Homo sapiens: one gene and its partners. The protein of the gene in region 3 purifies or fractionates together with the protein of the main gene of each other region. This does not show direct contact. Each region holds a gene or a part of one and is shown on either strand. Other genes may lie near its edges. The genes, in order: PACC1, TM9SF4, SPCS2 and TMEM87A.

The links.
Region 1: the proteins of SPCS2 (region 3) and PACC1 purify together in Homo sapiens (co-immunoprecipitation; one large-scale study listed by IntAct). This does not show direct contact.
Region 2: the proteins of SPCS2 (region 3) and TM9SF4 fractionate together in Homo sapiens (co-fractionation; one large-scale study listed by BioGRID). This does not show direct contact.
Region 4: the proteins of SPCS2 (region 3) and TMEM87A fractionate together in Homo sapiens (co-fractionation; one large-scale study listed by BioGRID). This does not show direct contact.

Annotation. Positions count from the first base shown.
Region 1 is NC_000001.11:212,375,267-212,380,474, forward strand, and holds part of PACC1 (proton-activated chloride channel), read right to left. Parts: intron 4,772-5,208; coding exon 4,629-4,771; intron 2,441-4,628; coding exon 2,296-2,440; intron 1,619-2,295; exon of another isoform or gene 1,528-1,618; intron 35-1,527; coding exon 1-34. UniProt on the Homo sapiens protein: Chloride channel gated by pH that facilitates the entry of chloride ions into cells upon exposure to extracellular acidic pH. Involved in acidosis-induced cell death by mediating chloride influx and subsequent cell swelling.
Region 2 is NC_000020.11:32,111,574-32,116,781, forward strand, and holds part of TM9SF4 (transmembrane 9 superfamily member 4 isoform 1 precursor), read left to right. Parts: intron 1-5,208. UniProt on the Homo sapiens protein: Associates with proteins harboring glycine-rich transmembrane domains and ensures their efficient localization to the cell surface.
Region 3 is NC_000011.10:74,975,298-74,980,139, reverse strand, and holds the end of SPCS2 (signal peptidase complex subunit 2), read right to left. Parts: intron 3,284-4,842; coding exon 3,097-3,283; 3' UTR 1,107-3,096; downstream 1-1,106. UniProt on the Homo sapiens protein: Component of the signal peptidase complex (SPC) which catalyzes the cleavage of N-terminal signal sequences from nascent proteins as they are translocated into the lumen of the endoplasmic reticulum.
Region 4 is NC_000015.10:42,230,264-42,235,471, forward strand, and holds part of TMEM87A (transmembrane protein 87A isoform 1 precursor), read right to left. Parts: intron 3,044-5,208; coding exon 2,950-3,043; intron 1,653-2,949; coding exon of another isoform or gene 1,581-1,652; intron 998-1,580; coding exon 929-997; exon of another isoform or gene 859-928; intron 1-858. UniProt on the Homo sapiens protein: Potential monoatomic ion channel gated by mechanical force, implicated in normal touch sensitivity through the generation of mechanically activated currents.

The DNA of each region.
Region 1 (5,208 bases), on a different chromosome or scaffold from region 3:
CTGGCCTCTGGTCAATGTAGTTAACCACACTTGTCTAGATGTGGAGGAGAGAAAGCAGTGTTACCACCTCTGTGTGCCCTTCCCTTGCCTGTGCCCAGCGAAAGGAGAGAGAGTAGGCAGGGGATCATAGTCTGTGGTTCTCCTCACACTATTTTTTGGAGAGAGAGTGGCAAAAATCTCATATATACAAGATCCTGACATTGGTAGCAAAGCCAAGGCTTTACCTTGGTTTCCACAGTTCTCTGGGGAAATGGGATCTGTGATTTACAATAGGTGTTTTGGATTGTCACTGAAATTTGTCACTAGGTATCTGTACTCACAATTAAACCATATTCAGGCCAGGCATGTTGGCTCACGTCTGTAATCCCAACACTTTGTGAGGCCTAGCCAGGCAGATCACCTGAGGTCAGGAGTTTGAGACCAGCCTGGTCAACATGGTTAAGCCCTGTCTCTACTGAAAATACAAAAATTAGCCAGGTGTAGTGGTGGGCGCCTGCAATCCCAGCTACTCAGGAGGCTGAGGCAGGAGAATCGCTTGAATCTGGGAGGCAGAGGTTGCAGTGAGCCGAAATAGTGCCACTGCACTCTAGCCTGGGGGACAGAGCAAGACTCTGTCTCCAAAAAAAATAAAATATTAAAAATAAACCATATTCAAACTACCATGTAAGACTCACAATTAAAAGCAATAAAAATTCCAAATTTCAAAGTACTTGGTTTTCAGATCAAGTATTTCTCTGAATTTTCAACGCTTGTTTCAACCCTTCAAGTTTACAGGGACAAAGCACAGCTGCATAGATCCACACAGCTGAGCATTCCCTGTAAATACTTAGTAGGTGTGCTTGGTGAGATCTGGTTGTCAATTACTAAAGACGCTGTGTGGTGTAACGGAGAGCAGACAGGTAACAAAGGCAGAAACCAGCTCCACCCAGAGGCTCAGATCCATCATCGAAGCTGAGCCTCAGCTTTGCCACCCACAAAGCTGAACAAAATGCCTACGTCACTACAGTATAGGGGCATACCTATGTGAGAGCACTCTAAACTCTAAAATGTGATTTTAAAACACATTTTTTAGTTTTGTTCAAAAGAGCTCATAATGCCAACAAAAGACTTCCAATTTAGACAGTAATAAAAGATGCTAAAATTTCTTTAATGTACAGGTTCACTAGAGTTTTCACCCTTTGGTTTCGGATCACAGTGGGAGCTATCAGAAAATCCAGGGTAGATGGGGTTGAACTTAATTGTAAGGTAAGTGAACACAGTCTCCTTCCTCAGAGCTGCTGTGGGGCCAGATAAGAAAGGACTTGAATTTCTTGGAGCAAATTTGGAGGTAAAAATCTGGGAGATGACAGTTATCTTACAAAACAGGAAGATTTTAAGGTCCAGTCACCAGGAGGGGTTGTCACTTCCCAAGGCAGGAAAAATAGCCTTGCTTCCTTGAAGAAAACTGGCTTTGAGCCTCTTCCAAGTAACCAGCCTGGACTAGTCTGAGGAGCTAGGGCTCATGACAGGGCCCTGTTTAAGACTAACCCAAGACAGTCTTCTCCGGCCTAACTTCTGGCCAGTGATGGCCTAGTTGACTGGAGTGTGTCCTTCTGCTCCAGATGAGCATCCCGAGCCACTGGGATACAAGAAGAAAAGACTAGCTTTTTTTACTATTTATTTTTATCTCATCCTTTTAACATTTCTATTTTTGAATGTTTAAAGTGTATATAACACTAAGACAATAATAGTATGTTATATCACCTGCAGAGTTATATGTATATGGAGTATATGATCAAAAAGTTTTTACTAATGGGAAATCTGATCAAAAAGCTTTCAGCCCACTGGCCTAGCAGCCAGGAGATACACCTGGCATCTCTCGCTGTGACACCTGTGAGAGCTGAAGAGGACCTTAGGAAAAGGATCAACATGCACACTTGGGACCACTGTGTCTAGTCTCTCTTCCCTGCAAATAATCAATCTGCTAGGCCACTGCCAGCCCCTCAAAGTGCTGCTAGATGCAAGACATCAGACACAGCTGGGCGAGTTACTGACCTCTCTGCAAGCCACAATGATCTCTGCCCCACACATGCATTCCGTGAGGACTGGCCGGTATGTGCGCTGCCTGCAGAAGCACACACAGACTCCCTGGCATAGCATATGAAGCCCTCCATGGGAGTCCCTTCTCATCCTGACCAAGGCCTACTCACCCTTAAGGCCCTGCTCAAAGGAGCCTTCTCTGCAAAGCTTCCCTCCACCTCAGACTCGAATGTGGAAAAGTCACCAGCAGTTTCAAGCAAACCCAGAGCCACCTACCTCCTGCCGGAACTCCACTGCTTCCCGCCCATCCTCCTCCTTGGTCTTTACCAGTGACATCTTGACCCAGGTGCGGAAGCCCCCAGAGAACTTCCAGCTGGAATAGGCACTCTCACAGGCCTGCATGAAGCCTACCCTGTTTGGGCTTGGAGGAAGGAAGGAGAAGGAAGATCCAGGTCAATGCAGGTCTGGCAGCAGGAGTCGAAGCCCCCACTGCAAGCTGGTTTCTTTGCTGGCACAACCAGGATGCTGCCCACTCCCTGCCTCCTCTCCAAATTGTGATTGCCTCAACAGGGCTGTCAGTCACCAGCAAAAGCAAGGCCCATCCCTCTTTTCTCTCCATTTGGTTTCCAAATGGAGGGGTAGTCACTGGCCTCAAGGCAGGAACATGATCCTTGAAGCTCCCAGTGGGAGAAATCTTCCTCCCTCCTCCCATCATTCCTATCGATGGCTACCAAAGCTGTCGGCAATGAAGTTGGCAGAAGCTCCCCAGAACATGGCGCTCACAGCTCCTCAGAGAACTCTGGACTTCAGCAGAGCCTGAGGAAGCCCTCACCAGCCTGTCAGCTCCCATGGAAGGCCCAAAGAGGGGAAGAGGGTTCCTTGGGGAGGTCTCAGCCAGATGGGTCACCTACAGCATCAGCCCCAAGACGGTGCAGATGCAGCAAAATCAAAGCGAACATAAAAACAAGTAAAAACTGCAGCAGCATACCGAGGAAGCTCACGAAAGGAGCGTGGAGTGGGGGTGGGATCCCGGGGAAAGTCTTCCAGGAGGAAGGCAAGATGGCCAGCTTGAAGCAGGGAAGGGAGAGGGAATTCTAGGTGGCAGAAAGGGTGGAAAATGCTAAGGCAGAGGCTCCGAGCTCTGGGGTGGAAGAACAAAGCAGTGGTGGTGTGGAATGGAGGCAGCTCGCTGCATGTCCAGCTGGGGAGCAGCCTCCCTGCCCCTGTAGCTGCCTCCCTGCTTGCTCTGAATGGAGCCTCTGGGCTCAGCAGGACCTGGTAGGAACTGAGTCCCTCTCAACTCAGGCACATGAAGAAAATTCTCCTGCCCTCTAGGCTCCACGGTGTGACCCCAAAGCAGTGTGTGTGGAGCAGACAAGAACTTTCTGATGGTCAGGGGACATTCATCACTGTAAATCGAAGACTAAGAGAGGTGGCAGAGCTTATATCCTCATACCAGAGATGCAGTAGACCCTTGAACAACACAGGTTTGAACTGGCTGGGTCCACTCACGTGCGGATTTTCTTTTGCCTCTGCCACTCCTGAGACAGCAAGACCAAACCTCCTCCTCAGCCTACTCAACATGAAGGCGATGAGGATGAAGGCCTTTACAATGATCACTTCCACTGAATGAATAGTAAGTATATTTTCTCTTCCTTATGATTTCCTTTTTTTTTTTTTTGGAGTCTCGCTCTGTTGCCCAGGCTGGAGTGCAGTGGCGCAATCTCAGCTCACTGCAAACTCTGCCTCCTGGGTTCAATCGGTTCTCCTGCCTCAACCTCTTGAGTAGCTGGGACTACAGGTGCCCGCTACCACGCCTGGCTAATTTTTTGTATTTTTAGTAGAGATGGGGTTTCACCATGTTAGCCAGGATGGTCTCGATCTCCTGACCTCGTGATCCGCCCACCTTGGCCTCCCAAAGTGGTAGGATTACAGGTGTGAGCCACCACACCTGGCCATGATTTTCTTAATAACATTTTTTTTCTCTAGTTTACTTTATCGTAAGAATACAGTCTATGATATATATAACCACGCAATATGTGTTGTTTATGTTATTGGTAAGGCTTCTGTCAACAGTAGGCTGTTAGTAGTTTTGGGGGTCAAAAGTTATACACAAATTTTTGGCTGCATAGGCAGGAGTGGTTAAGTTTGGTAACCCCAAACCCCAAGTTGTTCAAGGACCAACTGTATTTCAGGCAAACATACATTAAGCCCGCACTAAGGGCAAGATGTGGTTCCTGTGCACACTGTGGGGGAAACCAAGGAACCACACAAGAACTTGCTCTCAAAGGGACTTACAAATCAAAGGCAACTTCCCCTACTCCTCAGCAGCCCCAGGCAATGGTGAGACCAAATGATCTCTCTAGAACCAGCCAGCACTATGTGCATGGAGAGCCAGCATGCTCCTCCACACCAGATTTGCTTAACTTTGTGATAAGATGTTGAGTGGACCGGCCAAGCTCATGAGGTCCCTTCCTGGGCCAGTGGGTCATCTGAGAATGCCCCTTCCCTTCCCTGCCCTCACCCCTCCGTCTCTAGCCTTGGGACATACACAGCTGGAATAAGATAAAAAGTAGACAGTAAGCCCACTGTGAACTCTAAAAGCCCACCTTTGCAGGAACTCCTGGAAAGAAGAGAAGAGGAGGTAATCAATGGCGCTGAAGTCCTCACTACTCTTGTTCAGGCGGAACTGGAGGAAGACCAGCTCCCGCTTTTTCACTTCCCGGGGCCCCTGGACAATCAGGGCAGATTTCTGCAGAGAGAAAAAGGACAGAGTCTCAGTCCTGGGAGAGTACACAGAGGCCTCTGGGTCTGAGGGCAGAAGTACTGACTGGAAAGCCCATAGCTCCTTGCCCAGTGGTCTCCAAAGGGACCACTAGCCAACAACAGGACTGGGCTGGGACTCATGCTCATTCCTGGGGAGTTTTCCCCATATGATGCCCAACCAGAGCTGAATGCAGCTCATCCTCTGTCCACTTTTCTCATTGGTTCTTTGAGTTATGGAAGCTCTTAATTTAGCAAGGATGATCACTTTCATCTGTTATGTGTGCCAATCTTTTCTTCCAGTCTGTCATTTTTCTTTTAACTTTGTTTCCAATGTCATTTGTCCTATGGAAACTTTAAATTTAACGTAGTAAAACCTTAAATCCTTTTCTTTACGGCTTTGGGTTTTGCTTGCTGAGGAAAGCC
Region 2 (5,208 bases), on a different chromosome or scaffold from region 3:
AAATACGTGAACAAAATAATGTCACCAGTAGATGCTGTGAGGACAGCAAAATGAAGTGATAGTGATTAGGGGTGACTGGGTGACACAACTACTTTGGATTGAGTGGTCAGAAAGAAGTCTTCTCAGAGGAGGTGACTTGAGTTAAAACATAATTAACAAGAAGGAACCAGCCATGCAAAGAATGTTCCAAGCAAAGGAAATGGCAAGTGTAAGGGGCCGATGTGGAAGGGAGCTTGGTGTTTTTGAGGAACACACAGAAGGCTGGAGGGGCCGAAGCATGATGAGGGTTGGGGTAGGAGAGAATGATACAAGATGAAACTGGAGGGAAGCAAGAGCAACTGTTTTGAGAAGCATGCCTGGAAATGGGAAGGACTGCGGTCTACATTTTGTTGTCTGTGGATTGCATTTTGAAATAGTGTTGTATTAGGCTGCTTCCCCTTCCCATCCCCTTCAGGACAGTACTTGAAGGGAGCCAGCTTGTTCTCAGTTGGCACAGAGGCTGTGGAAAGGAGTTTGGATTTTAGTCTAAGCACAGTGGAAGGGACAGTGATTTTTGCCCAGCACAGTGACTCACACCTGTAATCCCAGCACTCTGGGAGACCAAAGCTGGGAGATCGCTTGAGCTCAGGAGTTTGAGACCAGCTTGGACAACATGGCAAACCCCTCTACAAAAAAAATACAAAAAGAAAAAATTAGCTGGGCTTGGTGGTGTGCACCTGTAGTACCAGCTACTTGCGGGGCTGAGGTGGGAGGATCACTTGAACCTCAGTGAGCCCTGATCACTGCACTGCACTCCAGCTTTGGCAACAGAGCGAGACCCTGTCTTAAGAAACAACAACAGGCCGGGAGCAGTGGCTCATGCCTGTAATCTCAGAATTTTGGGAGGCTGAAGCAGGCAAATCACTTGAGGCCAGGAGTTCAACACCAGCCTGGCCAACATGGCGAAACCCTGTCTTCTAAAAATACAAAAATTAGCAGGGTGTGGTGGCACACACCTGTAATCCCAGCTACTCGGGAGGCTGAGGCACAAGAATCGCTTGAACCCGGGAGGCGGAGGCTACAGTGAGCCAAGATCGTGTCACTGCACTGCAGCCTGGGTGACAGAGTGAGACCCTATCTCAAAAAAAAAAAAAAAACAAAAAACAAAACACACCACCACCAACAAAACCCTGCAAGTACGGTGATTTAGTGTTTGTTGTGCCACCTGGGAGTGTTGTACTGAAAACAGTAACTGATTTAAAGAAACTGAGTATGTAACATATGCAGTGACCCACAGAGGCCAGTTTAAAGGGTGCATATGGAGAAACTTCATATCTGGTGCAATAGTGAAAAGGTGTGGAAGCAAATTTATTACAGGGGTATGTGATGAAGGGGCAAAGTGGAGTCACAGGCTTGAGTTTGGTCTGTGTCAGCACTTCATTACACGGAAGTCAGAATAGTCCCCACACCCTCATACACACCCTCATTTCATAACCATTGGGGCGAGGGGGTGCGGTAGACCTACTTTGGAGTGTATGGGTCTCTGAGGTGAGTCATACAGCCAAAGAGGAACTGAACTAGTGGATCCAGTGGCCGTGGGAATAGCTGGGTTGCTGGTTTGTCCTTTGTTTTGAAAGTTAGGGTTGTGGGTGCAAGTGCGGTGGCATGTGAGCTTTTCCCTTTCTCTCTTTCCTTGGTGAATGGCTCTTCTTCCCCAAGGGTTGAGCCGCCAGCTCCCAGAACAATGTCAGTATGGAGGGTGTTTCCTGAACCCGCAGGGCAAGACTTCTCCCTCCATAGAAGATAGCTGGTGTAAACTGAAGTTCTCTTTGATTTTCCTGTCTTCTTCCATCCTTAGATTTAGACTACTCTGTAAAGTTACAGGATACAGTGTTGATCTAGCTAGGTCTGAATTGAGATGCGGGCTCATGTCTCACTCTTTATGGAAAACGGTTCTTGGGAATATTATTTCATTGAAACTTGGGAAATGTCCATTGAGTACATTTCTAGATGTGTCAGGAGTCTAGAAACTTCAGTTTGGAGAATAAAACTCTACTTCCCTCACATCATTGTTCATACTGTTTTGGTTTTTATTATAATCTTCTTTATGGATATAATTCATATGCCATAAAATTCACCCCTTTAAAGTATATAATTTAGTGGGTTTTAGTGTTTTTATAGGTTGTGCATACACTAAATGTGATGGTTATCACCATTGTGTAATTCGGAACATTTCATCACCCCAAAAAGAGAGTCACTCCCTACTCTTCCCTCCCCACAGCCCTAGGCAACTACTAATTTACCTTCTGTCCCTATAGATTTGCCTATTCTGGACATTTTATACAAAGATAATTATATAATATGTGATCTTTTGTGTCTGGCTTCTTAGCATAATGTTTTCAAAGTTTGTTTATGTTGTATCATGTATCAGTAGTGCCGCATCCCTTTTTATGGCTGAATCTTCCCTTGTATGGATGTACCACAGCTTGTTTATCACTCATCAGTTGATGGATATTGGGATTGTTTTCACTTTTTGGTTGTTAGGTATAATGCTGCTGTGAACATTCAGGTGTAAGTTCTTGTGTGAACATACATTCAGTTTCCATGGGTGTATGGAAGTGTATTCCTGCATCAGTTCACACTGTTTTGAGGTTACTTGGGTTTGAGCCACTCCAGAAACAGGAATGGAATAAATGACATCAAGATTCCTTTGTGCTAATGGAGCCAATGCCAGTAGTCCCTCCAGCCCCAGTCAAAGGCACAGAAACTGGTTTTGTTTGTTTGTTATTATTATTTGAGACAGGGTCTCACTCTGTCATCCAGGCTGGAGTGCAGTGGCACGATCATAGTTCACTGCAGCCTCCACCTCCCGGGCTCAGGCGATCATCTTGCCTTAGCCTTCTGAGTAGCTGGGACTACAGGCACGCACCACATCCACCTAATTTTTTAATTATATTTTTCTTAGAGACAGGGTCTTGCTATGTTGCCCAGGCTAGCCTTGAACTCCTGGCCTCAAGCAATCCTCCCGTCTTGACCTCCCAAAGTGCTGGGATTACAGGTGTGAGTCACTGTGCCCAGCAAAAACTGTTTTTAATGGTGAAATAGCGTGCTAATCAGGTTGGATGATAGAGTCCTGGAACAGAAGGCCAGAGGCCTGAACTGTGCCATCAGTCTTGTGTGCAGGAAGTTGCTGTCTCCTCTGGACCCCATGTACAGGAGGACATGAGCTGACTGAAGAAGGAACGCTGGAGCAGGAGCCAGCAGCCTGGGCTTGGTCCCAGCGCTGCCACTGATGCATTGTGTGGCCTGGGGCAAATTACTTTGGCTTCATTAGTCTGTTTTCCACATATGTCATGTGTGAAATTAAGGTTTGTACTTGATGATTTCCAAATTCTGAGTTGAAAATTTTGTAGTTTGGAATACTTTAAGGTGAGTTTTGCTAATATGCCTATAAAATCAGACTTATTTTGTTTTTTCCATGATGATGGTCACTGTGATCTTTCCAAGCTGTTGTGTTGGTTGTATTGTCTGTCTGATCACCCAGGTTTCCCCACCTGGCTCATGTTCTGCAGGAGCTACTGTGTCCTTGGAGCTGAGGTGCTGACATCGGGCCTTGGTTAAATGTGTTTCTCTGAGGGGTCCCTTTAAAGGAATGCCCTTAATCCCCCTCAGGAAGTACAGAGGAGGTTGGGATCACATTAAGTTGCCTCTTAGTTTCTGTTTTACAACTTGGACAAACGTCTCCCTTTGATCTTGGCATTAAAGAAGCACGTCAGAGAATGTTGGAGAAGGCTGAGTTTTGATCTCTGGGCACTGGCAAAAAGGTGGGAAGGACCCAGGATGAGAAGAGCCATCTGGCCACGGATGAATAATAGGAGCCACTACCACCTTCAAGCCTGCTTTGATCCCTGAACCATTTGCTGACACTAGAGTTTCCCAAATGGGGCATGGATGGGGACACCCAGGACTTCTCAGTTCCATCTCATTCCTTTTCATTGCTTCCTTCTCTCCCTTCCTAACATGGTTTCTCACCTATGCCTGATGCTTTAAACCAACAGACCTCCCAGGGTTTGAAATCCTCTTATGCTTGGTCTGAGAATCTGGGCTAGACTCCCAGCTCTGACACTGTGATTACTTTTGTGACTTTGGACTGATTGGTTATGTGATTTTGGGAAAACCGTTTGCGCTTTTAAGCCTCAATTACCTTATATTAAAATTTTTTATTGTGGTAATAACAAAACCTACCACTTTAAGCTTTTTTTTTTTTTTTTTTTTTTTTGAGACAGAGTCTCACTCTGTCGCCCAGGGTGGAGTGCAATGGTGCGATCTCAGCTCAGTGCATTACTGCAACCTCTGTCTCCTGGGTTCGAGCGATTCTCCTGCCTCATCTTCCCAAGTAGCTGGGACTACAGGCATGTGCCACCACGCCTGGCTAATTTTTGTATTTTTAGTAAGGATAGGGTTTCGCCATGTTGGCCAGGCTGGTCTCGAACTCCTGACCTTGGGTGATCCACCTGCCTCAGCCTCCCAAAGTGCTGGTATTACAGGCATGAGCCACCATGCCTGGCCCACTTTAAGCATTTTTAAGTGTGCAGTTCAGTGGCATTAAGTACGTTTACACATATGCAGCTGTTAGCACTATCCGTCTCCAGAACTTTTTCATCATCTCATTTTTGAAACAAGGATGATATTCTCAAGGGATTGTTGTGATGATTAAATGAAATATGAGATGAAAGTGCTAGCACAGAGAGGGCACTCTGTAACTTTACTCCAAGGTTTGAAGTCTTCCCGTGGTGAGCTATCTAAGCCTGCTGCTTGGGCTAGCTGAGAGTTCTTTTATAAATACCCAAGGTGGAGACAGGAGAGCAGTACGTTTCTGCACTTGGTGGTGTCAGGGTTGAAGTCTGGTTGCCTGTTGCTTCGTGAGGGTGGTTATTAGTTTCACCTGGACTTCCGCAGTGCAGCCTGCTGTGCGTTTTTCCCTACCCCCAAATTACAGCTTTGAGTCTTTCATGTGTCTCTGTTCAACAGCTACTCTGTGTCTGTGGGCTCTGAAATAAAGGCTACATTTTCAGTTTCCTGTGGCTAATTTGTTTTTTGTTTGTTTGTTTGTTTGTTTCTTGCTCTGTGAGTTCTTTAGTTCCATGGGCCTGCTTGGTAAGTTGTCTCTAGCTGTCATTAGCCTTCATTCACATGCGGCTGGATTCTTGGTAAGCTTTAACTGACTGG
Region 3 (4,842 bases):
CAGACCTACTAGAGGGTACAGAGCAGCCCAGCAGCCTTCTGGACTGGGCTGAAATGGCCACTCAGTAGATGCATGTGTCAGAAGCTGGCCAGAGGCACTCTGCAGCTCTACAAAGTGTGCCCATGCTGAGGCTTGAGCCTGCAGAGGGTACTTTTTGTTCATGTGATGAGACACTCCTAAAATGCCACAAGTGCAAAGACAGGGGACCAACTGCAACATGTAGCTGGGCTGATAACCCACTTCTTCAACAAATCTAAACTGCTTCAACTGGTTTCTGGAGTCAGGGAAAAACCTTAAAATAGATCCATGTAGTCCAAGAAGTCTCCAGTGAGCCTTATAGGCAGATATTGGGGATATGGCACCCAACATTCTTTGTAATCATAAGGGATGTTTTTTATTTCCCAGGGAATAAGGAGTCTTCATAATCTCAAAATACATTCTCTAAAACTTTTTTTTTTTAACAAGAGACTTCACCCTAGAAAAGGAATAGGATGTATTCAAGGTCACAAATTAGAAAAAAGTTGCTAACAACCCAGGTTTCTTGTCTCTCATTTGAGGACCTATTTTCTTCCCCTCTCCTCAATCCATACTCCTTCCTGGAATAGTGAAAAAAACTGGGGAAAAATTATCATCAATAGGGTATTAAAGTAAAATCACTTATACTATGGAATATTATGTAGCTATTAAAAATGAGACTGACCTATGTGTATATATATATAGGGGTTATCACCCCAGCTACTTGTTGCAATTGGTCCCCTGCCTTTGCACTTCTGGTATTTTAGAACAGTTTCTTTTATATATATGTATGTCAGACTCTTTTTTTTTTCTTTTTTGAGACGGAGTTTTGCTCTTGTTGCCCAGGCTGGAGTGCAGGGTGTGATCTCGGCTCACTGCAACCTCCGCCTCCCAGTTCAAGCCATTCTCCTGCCTCAGCCTCCCAAGTAGCTGGGATTACAGGCATCTGCCACCATGCCCAGCCAATTTTTTGTATTTTTAGTAGAGATGTGGTTTCACCATGTTGGCCAAGGTGGTCTCGAACTCCTGACCTCAGGTGATTTACCTGTCTTGGTCTCCCAAAGTGCTAGGATTAAAGGCGTGAGCCACCATGCCTGGCCTCAGACTCATTTTTAATAGCTGCATTATACACACACACAGGGAAAATGCCTAAGATATATTAAGTTTAAAACACAAATTACAGGACATATATCAACATAATTCAATTTTTGTTAAAAAAAATGTATGTGGAGACACATGTTTGCATGCACATGTAAAGAAAAAGGCACAGTGGGGGAACTCTAAGGGATCATCATGGAGAGGGTTATTCAGTCTCTATCTGCAAGCCTCGAGACCCTTGTGTCTAACAGTACAGTTGGCCCTCTATATCTACAGATTTAACCAACCATGGATTAAAAATATATTTTAAAAAATAACAAAAAATATAAATTAAAAAACCAATGCAGTATAACTATTTACATAGCATTTACATTATATTAGGTATTATAGGTAATCCAGAGGTGATTAAAAGTATATGGGAGGATGTGTGTAGGTTATATGCAAATGCTATACCATTTTATATAAGGGACTTGAGCATCCTTGGATTTTGGTATGCTTGGGGATCCTGGAACCAATCTCCCACAAATACCAAGATGACTGTAACTCCTCCATTGTAAAAATACACTTATCCGGTTACATGCTTTCAAAAACTTTAAGAAGCTCACAGAGAATTCCGAAACTTACCCAAGGTTTACAGGAATGAAGAGTACAGAATCCAAGGCTTTAACTTTCTGTCCAGTGTTGTTCACAATTCCCTACCATGTGGTGCGAGATAGGACAACCTCTCCAAGACAAACAGGAAATGTGATAATGGTAATTTCTTACAAACTGAATATAGTGTTGGGTACTAGGCTCAGCCAAAATTGATGTTTTGTAAGGCTGTAGGGAAATATTCCTAAAGGTCAAAGGATCTTGGCAAGCACCCAGGTCTTCTCTGACCATACTGGGAAAATACTGGAAAAGCGGCTGTTTTGTCTCTGCAGGACCACAAACTCTGAAGCCGGACTCCCCAGGTTTGAATCCCAGTTCTATCACTAGCTGTGTGACAATTATTTAACTTTTGTATCTCAGTTTCCTCATGTGTAAAATGGGGATAATAACAGCACCTGCCTCTTAGGATTGCTGTGAGCATTATTAACACATGTAAAGTACTTGGAGCATTTCTGGCACAAAGTAAGTACAGAATGTTGTTATTATTGTTATTATCACTGGAAAGCTAAGAGTTCCTTAGCTACAGGTTCTCAGGGGCCTTTGACAAGTAAAATAGCCTAAAAATGAAAAAAACCTATAGTAGAAAGATGTTAACACTTGTTTCTCTGTTCTCTCCATCAAAACTATGACTCCATTTTTTTCACATCTTCCTTCCTTTTATTGAAAAAAATTTTAGAAAATGGCAGTTAATAAAAGGCACAAACAAATCAACAGGGATATACTAGTGGAAAACACAATATAAAACTAAAATGCCATTGGCTTCTTTAATTGGTTAAAAGCAAAAATGTAACAGGCAGAAAGTCTGTTTCAAACAAATTAAAAAGCTATGTGTTTTTTAAATTCTTCCCAAATCAGATATATACACACCCACAAAAATAGTGTGTGAAGGAAAGCTGTCATACACAAGAAGTTGTATCCTGAATTCTTCAAGGAAACACATATTGAAATAGGAATTAAGAGTCAGCAACAGATTAATAATTTTTTAAAATTGAGTCTTAAAATGCTACATGGCCCAAAGCTATACTATATAAAGTACTGCTAGGTACAAAAGAAAAAGTCTGTACAGCTTTTAGCAAAACTGCTTTCCCAGAAAAGCAAATTAAAATAATGCAATCAGCAGATCAAGGAGACTACAGCTAGACATCAGAGCTACAACTTCTCATATCTGTGTCAGAAAATCCTATTTACCCAGAATAGACTAAAATTTCAGGACAAAACAGGGACTTTTTAACATTTCTTACTTTACCCATTTTAAGTTCTTTTTATCTCCCCCACCCCCCAAGCCACTAATTCAGCAAGATCCAGGAGAAAGAGGGCTACTTTTAGAATTGGCTACTTTATTTTTCTTTCTATGGCAAGACTGTCATGGAGCCTGGATATTTCAGGCTCATATGCATCCATGACCAGTGTCCCACTGTGGTCAAAAAACTTAGCAATGGACTTTGTGAACTCGGCTTCCCGCTGCTGCTTTGTTCTCCCACTGATGAAGGTCAGCTTCAAGGTGTATTTGTCATCAAACCTAAGCATGGGGGCAAAGATAACAAATTAAAAACCAAACACAGAGATTCAACCAGTAACAATACGGCACCAAGTGTTTCCGAAGAAAAGGAGTAAGCTGGGCACGGTGATACAGGGAACAAACACATCCTTTAAAAGCAAAAGCAAAAACAAAACCCCAGGGCTCCTAACTTTTCAAGATACTAGTTCTGATTCTTAGGTGTTGACATATCTTTCCTACTTTAATTACTGTGTACCTCCTTTACCTTGTTGTAGACTTTTAAACCACGTGGACCATCTTCTCTCATCTCTGGACTTCGTATTTGCCATGCTAGACAGGTTTTCCTCGCAGACTCTTCTCCCCTATCTCACCTGAGAAGTTCTTATTTGTTAACACTATACTTGGGCATAAACTTTTCTGGGAAAGCCTACCAATCTGGGTCAGATGTGTTTCCTCTGTCTTCCACAGTACCATCAATCAATACTCAACTCAAATACTGACCTCCTGTCATATGCCAGGCCTAATAATAGGCTCTTATGGTATCAACAAAATTACCTATCTGTTGACATGATGTGTACTACTTTCTTCACTAGACTGGGAGGTTTCTTTTCCCTTTGTTTCTGGTGCTTGAATCAGGATTGTCTAGGAGATTCTTGAGCAAAGATTGTTGTCTTAATTGCTTCATACTCTTAGCTGGGCTTCTAGTAGGCAATCAAATTTTTATAAATAAATGAAGAACCCTTGCTTTCAAGGATGCTCTCCAATCCCGGGGTGCCTAGTCCTTGCACTCTGTAATCAATCTAGCTCCAGGTTTTACTCTGATCCCAGGCCAGGGATGCCAACTGCTTTACTAAATGAACTCCAGAGATTCCTTTAGCTATACTTCAAGGTACCCTGAAGGCCATTACTATGTCCATTCATTCAAGAGGGTTTAATGACACCAATTACTGGTAGGCTGACATCCCCCACCCTGTTTCCATTTATTAGGACATATTCAGTGGATTGTCAAGCTAGTATTATCTTTAAATGAAGCAGTTTCTTGAGGCTCTATTTCTGCATGTTTAAAATGGGAGAACTTCCACCTGCTTTCAGGATTACTGTCATGACTAAAACAGTGTCTATCATTAACTAGTGCTCAAAAGGTCACAGCTCCTCAATAATTGTTGGTCTAGGCAGTAACTCCCAACTTGGAGAGCTAGTAGTGAAGTTCCTTTAACTATTTTCAACACCTCAAAATATTTTCTCAAGTTCTGACCAACTGCTAATTGATATCACAGTAATTTTTAGACTTCTGTGCCCAGTTTTATTGGCAGTTACATGGCTTTGGTGGCAGTCCATGATCTGATGAGTTGTGACCTGATACATTTTAGAAATGTTCATTAATTCAGATATTTACTGAGCCTACCTATATGTGACAGGCAGTTTTAGATGGTAAGGATATACGGCAGTGAACATAATATAAATGTCTGCCTTTTGGGACTTTCATTTTAGTGTGTGTGAGGGAACAGACAGTATAAAAAAAGAAGATGTTCTCTTAAATAGATGGGCAGAAAAGCCTTCACTAAGCAGATGTCTGAGCA
Region 4 (5,208 bases), on a different chromosome or scaffold from region 3:
TGCAGAGGTTCACAAAACACTTAGAAAGATACTAATCTAGAAAAGCTTTGGCTATTTAGTCCAAGGACACTTTAACTGAAAACTCTTATACAGCAACCCACTCAAATTCACAAAACAATTTTGTTTACATTCACAGTTTTTCAACAGTCACAATCTATCAGGTCAGTAATAATGAAAACTGCTAATAGGACCAAATATATAAAAACCAAAACAAATTCAATAAGATAAAGTCCAAAAACTTGAATCCTTTAGCCATCAGGCCAAGCCCCTAATATATAAATTTAATTTTAAAGAGCAGGAGAAAAAGATTGCTCAAATAGAAGCTTGTTTGTTATCTGCTGGTTGACTCTGCCTGTAAATGAATCAATTATTTATTCTGAAGGGTGGAAATCTTCAAACAATTCCAAGCCAGCTTTTGAATGAGGCAAGAAAACACTCACTCCATAAGGGTTAAAACCTGCTGAACATACAGAGTTTCAGAAAAGTCAAAGCACCTTACATAGTTCCTGAAATCAAATTTTAAGGATCAAAATCTTTTCATAAGTTTCAAAGCATTTAAGAATTGCTAGAGGCTAAAAGGCAGAGCAGGACCAGCACAGCCAGTGACTCTAACACTAAATGATTAGGTACACAAACAAGAAGTGCAAAATCAAGATGAAATGCTCACTTAAAAGAAAAAAGCCAAAAGATTTTATCTCGAGCTCGGTCCACAGTCACCAATTTCCAATTTGATTTTTAAAATTAAAAAAATAGAAACAAAAAAAACTGCTTACCTGAACCCTCAGGTTGTTAAGACTTAGCATGCACTGTTCCCCACACTAAGGAGTAATTAACAAAACTGATAAAAACTCTTTGCAGAAAGATCAATGGAAACCCATCTCAAGGGGAGAAAATGGACCATCATCAAACAAGCCAATGAGAAGGATATCCACCAGCACAAGGCAGTGTCTAGGAAAGCCAAGGGGATAAAGGCCAAGGAAGCAAGATCAGTCTGGGCCTGCAGACAAAGAAAAAGAAGTGGTGAAAAACAGATGTCTAGAGAGGCACAGAGAAGAAACCACCACATGATTCTGCATTTACATAATCACTGGAAAGTTTTTGCATTGAACTGAAAGAAAATAAAAAGAACATTTGACACCTAATCATTCTTCCCTTCTTATAAACCATCACATAGAATATACAGCTATAAGCATTTCACATAAATTGTCATTTACAATCTCGAAACATACTGCTAAGTACGAGTTTTTCATATATAAAGATCCATGTTAACAAGTGACCATATTCCAAAAAAGTTCTAATGTTTATAAGCCCCATCCTTAATCTATCATTTCCTATTATTGCAATTTTGGCTACAAGTCTGAAAAGACTTTTCTCGTATTTAAAAAAAATTACTGCATCATATACAAAGAATTATTAATTTCTAAAATTATAATATTTTACAAATAAGAGCTCACCCCAAAATAAAATGTAAGGCAATTATCTGTCTGAAAAACTATGCTGCATGTTTCCAGGAGTTTATATAGAGTATGTTTTTTATATAACCCTAATTACCCAATCAACAGGCATTACTGAAAGGATATCCATAAAATAACACAGGCGTCAATTGCTGAGAGGGCCAGGTTTACTATCAGAGTCAAGGGATAAGAAAAATACTATAGCAACAGCAGAAGAAAGAAAATGAAATTGACAGAGGGTTAAAGTTGCTAGAAGTCTAAGAGAATTACATACAGAGGACAGTGTGATTTGAAAAGCAAATGTGCATCCACAAAGTGTTTGATTTAAGAGGCAATTTATTGCAAAACATATTGAGCCGTTTTCTTGTGGGCAAAGCCAAGTTTATAGTTTTTACAATATTGAATCTAATAGGTTGCTGTGGAGTCTTTTTTTAAAAAATAAGAAAATTAATTGAAATGGCCTAGAGAACCTTATACTTCTTCGTATTAATCCAGTGGTAACATAAATTTCTTTTCTCCTCTTTTTTAAGGAAGAGGTATCACTCTGTTGCTGGAGTGTAATGGCATGATCATGGCTCACCGCAGCCTGAACTCAATCAGTCCTTCCACCTCAGCCTCCCAAGTAGCCAGGACTACAGGCACCCACCACTGCTCCCAGCCATAAATTTCTTTATCACTTAGATTCTTTGGTTTCCTTCCCTGGCAAAGGGAATAATTATACAATTCTCAAAAATGGTGTGAAACTTCATTAGCTGCATTTTTTTTTCTTTTTTTGAGACGGAGTCTTGCTCTGTCGCCCAGGCTGGAGTGCAGTGGCACGATCTCGGCTCACTGCAAGCTCCGCCTCCCGAGTTCACACCATTCTCCTGCCTCAGTCTCCCAAGTAGCTGGGACTACAGGCGCCTGCCACCACGCCCAGCTAATTTCTCGTATTTTTTTTTTTTTTAGTAGAGACAGGGTTTCACCATGTTAGCCAGGATGGTCTTGATCTTCTGACCTAGTGATCCGCCTGCCTCGGCCTCCCAAAATGCTGGGATTACAGGCATGATTACACACCCAGCCTCATTAGCTGCATTTTAAGGAAGTTTTTGAAACTGAAATGTTAAGAAACAACAGTTACTTTAGATTAGATTAACTAGTAAGTGTATGACTCCAAAGTCTGCCATTTACACAAGAATTTCAGTCTGGATTTCAGTCTGGATTCCATTGATTAGAAAAAGAAAAAAAAATGCAAGTCTACTGCTTGGGAGGAGGAACTAAAACAATTAGCAATTTGGAGACAGGTGGAAAAGCATTCATTCGGGCACACACTAAATTTACAAAGCTCTAATAGATTTAAAAGAGAACATGAACTATACATATATTTTGAAAATCAGAGCCCAAAAGTGACTTAAAGCAAACAGAAAGAAGCCCACAGACATTTCCAATCCACACTGTCAAGATGTAAACAATATAATTGAACTGACCACAGAAAATGAGATTAAGCAGTACTAACCCCAGTAACTCTGAGGACCCCTTCCATGCCAGAGAACAAAAGATAGAGGGCTCCTGCTACTACAACCTTATGAAGAGTGACTCCAAGGCGTGGCCTAAAGAGGAAGCAAGGAGATATTTGAGTACATATGGGACAAATGCCGAAACAAGCTAAGTAACAGGAACTTGTGTTAATTAATATAGGCCAACAATTTAAAGCAATAAATAATATACACTTGATTCACCTAAGAGAAAAAAACTAAGACCTTATGGTCTTAAAACAAGATAGGGAACACTACAACTTGAGATCTTGTGTCTGGTTACCACATTTTAAAAAATGTTTCCTCAGAGAGTTTTGAAACATATTCACAAGTAGTATAATGCACCCTTATAAACCCTTCACCAAGGCCCAACAACCACTAACCTATGGTCAGTTTTGTCCCATGCATACCCCATCCCCTTTCCACCCTTTCATATTCTCTTGATGCAAATCCTAGACAGTATATCTTTGATATATTTCAGTATGTGTTTTTAATAAATGAGGACCTTATTTTTCTTTGGTATTTCAATGGCTACAAAAGGGCCTTTCTTTTTTTCCCCTAAAGAAACAGGGTCTCACTCTATCGCCCACGCTGAAGTGCAGTGGCCCAGTCACTGGAGCCGTGAACTCCTGGGCTCAAGCAACCCTCCCACCTCAGCCTCCCGAGTAGCTGAGGACTACAGGCACGTCCCACTACACCAGGCTAATTTTTTTTTTTTTTTTTGATGTTTTGTAGAGACAAGGTCTCACCGTGTTGCCCAGGCTGGTCTAGAACTCCTAGGCTTAAGCGATTCTCCTGCATTGGCCTCCCCAAGGGCTGGGATTACAGGCATGAGCCACTGTGCCTGGCCCACAAAAGAAACTTTTAAAAAACATCACCAAGATACCACCATCAAATCTAAAAATTCTAACGATTCCTTAATATAATCAAATATCCTATTACGGTTCATTAAATAGTATATTTGCAAGCTCGAAACCTAATATATGAAAAGTCTTCTGAGCAACTTCTGTTTGAAGGAGAAAAAGTCTTAACTCCTTGAGATTCAAAATCCTACACAACCAGAATCCACATGTTAACAAAATCCTTAGGTGATTCCTTAGTGTAGTGTAGTTTAAGATGTGCTGCCTTAAATCATGTCTGCATAGGCCTTACCAATATTTGTTCTTATATTTTTTGTTATACATTGGGGAAAACTCCATATGAGCAGGGAATTTTCTCCCCATTCATCTTGGAAACCTAGAATACTTCCTGGCATATAGGAGGCACTCAAATAATTGTTAAATAAATAAGTTTTAAGAATTAAAATTCCCCATATCTCTAATCCCATTTAAAGCAAAACTCCTTTAATTGAATAAACAAACTTAAAACAACTAACCTTAATCCTACTTAAAGCACTATAAAGTGATGCTATAGCATTACTTAATCCCACTTAAAGCAAAATTCCTTTAAATAATTGTCTATACAATTATTCTAATTCCTCTCCTCCTATACTCTCTGGAACTCTCCCCAATTAGGCTTTTGTCCCTATCTCTTCACCAAAACTATCACTATGACCCTCCATATAGGTAAACTCAATGGCCAATTCTCACTTGACCTATCAGGATCTCTTGACACAATCACTTCCTCCTTGAAACACATTCTTCAGTTTTCTACCCACCTCACTGGTCTCTCCTCAATTTCTTCTGCTAACTACTTCATCTTACAGACTTCTAAATAATATTAAATATTCAAGGGCCCAGCCCTTGGACCTCTTCTCTATATATACTCACTTCCTTGGTGACCAAATCCAGTCTCATGACTTTATTTATTTATTTATTTAACTTTGGAGATGGAGTCTCGTTCTGTTACCCAGGCTAGAGTGCAGTGGCATGATCTTGGCTCACTGCAATCTCCGCCTCCAGGGTTCAAGCGATTCTCTTGCCTCAGCCTTCCAAGTAGCTGGGACTACAGGTGCATGCCACCACAGCCGGCTAATTTTTTGTATTTTAGCAGACACAGGGTTTCACTGTGTTGTCCAGGCTGGTCTTGAACTCCTGACCTCAGGCAATCTGCCCGCCTTGGCCTCCCAAAGTGTGAGGATTATGGCGTAAGCCACCACGCCTGGCCTTCATGACTTTAAATAATATCTTTATCTTCATGACTCCCAAACTTTTATCTCTGCCCCAACCTCTCCCCTTTGTTTCCCCTACTTAGTTATCTAATTCAACTCCAATCTTGCCCCTGCTCCACACTTATTTCAC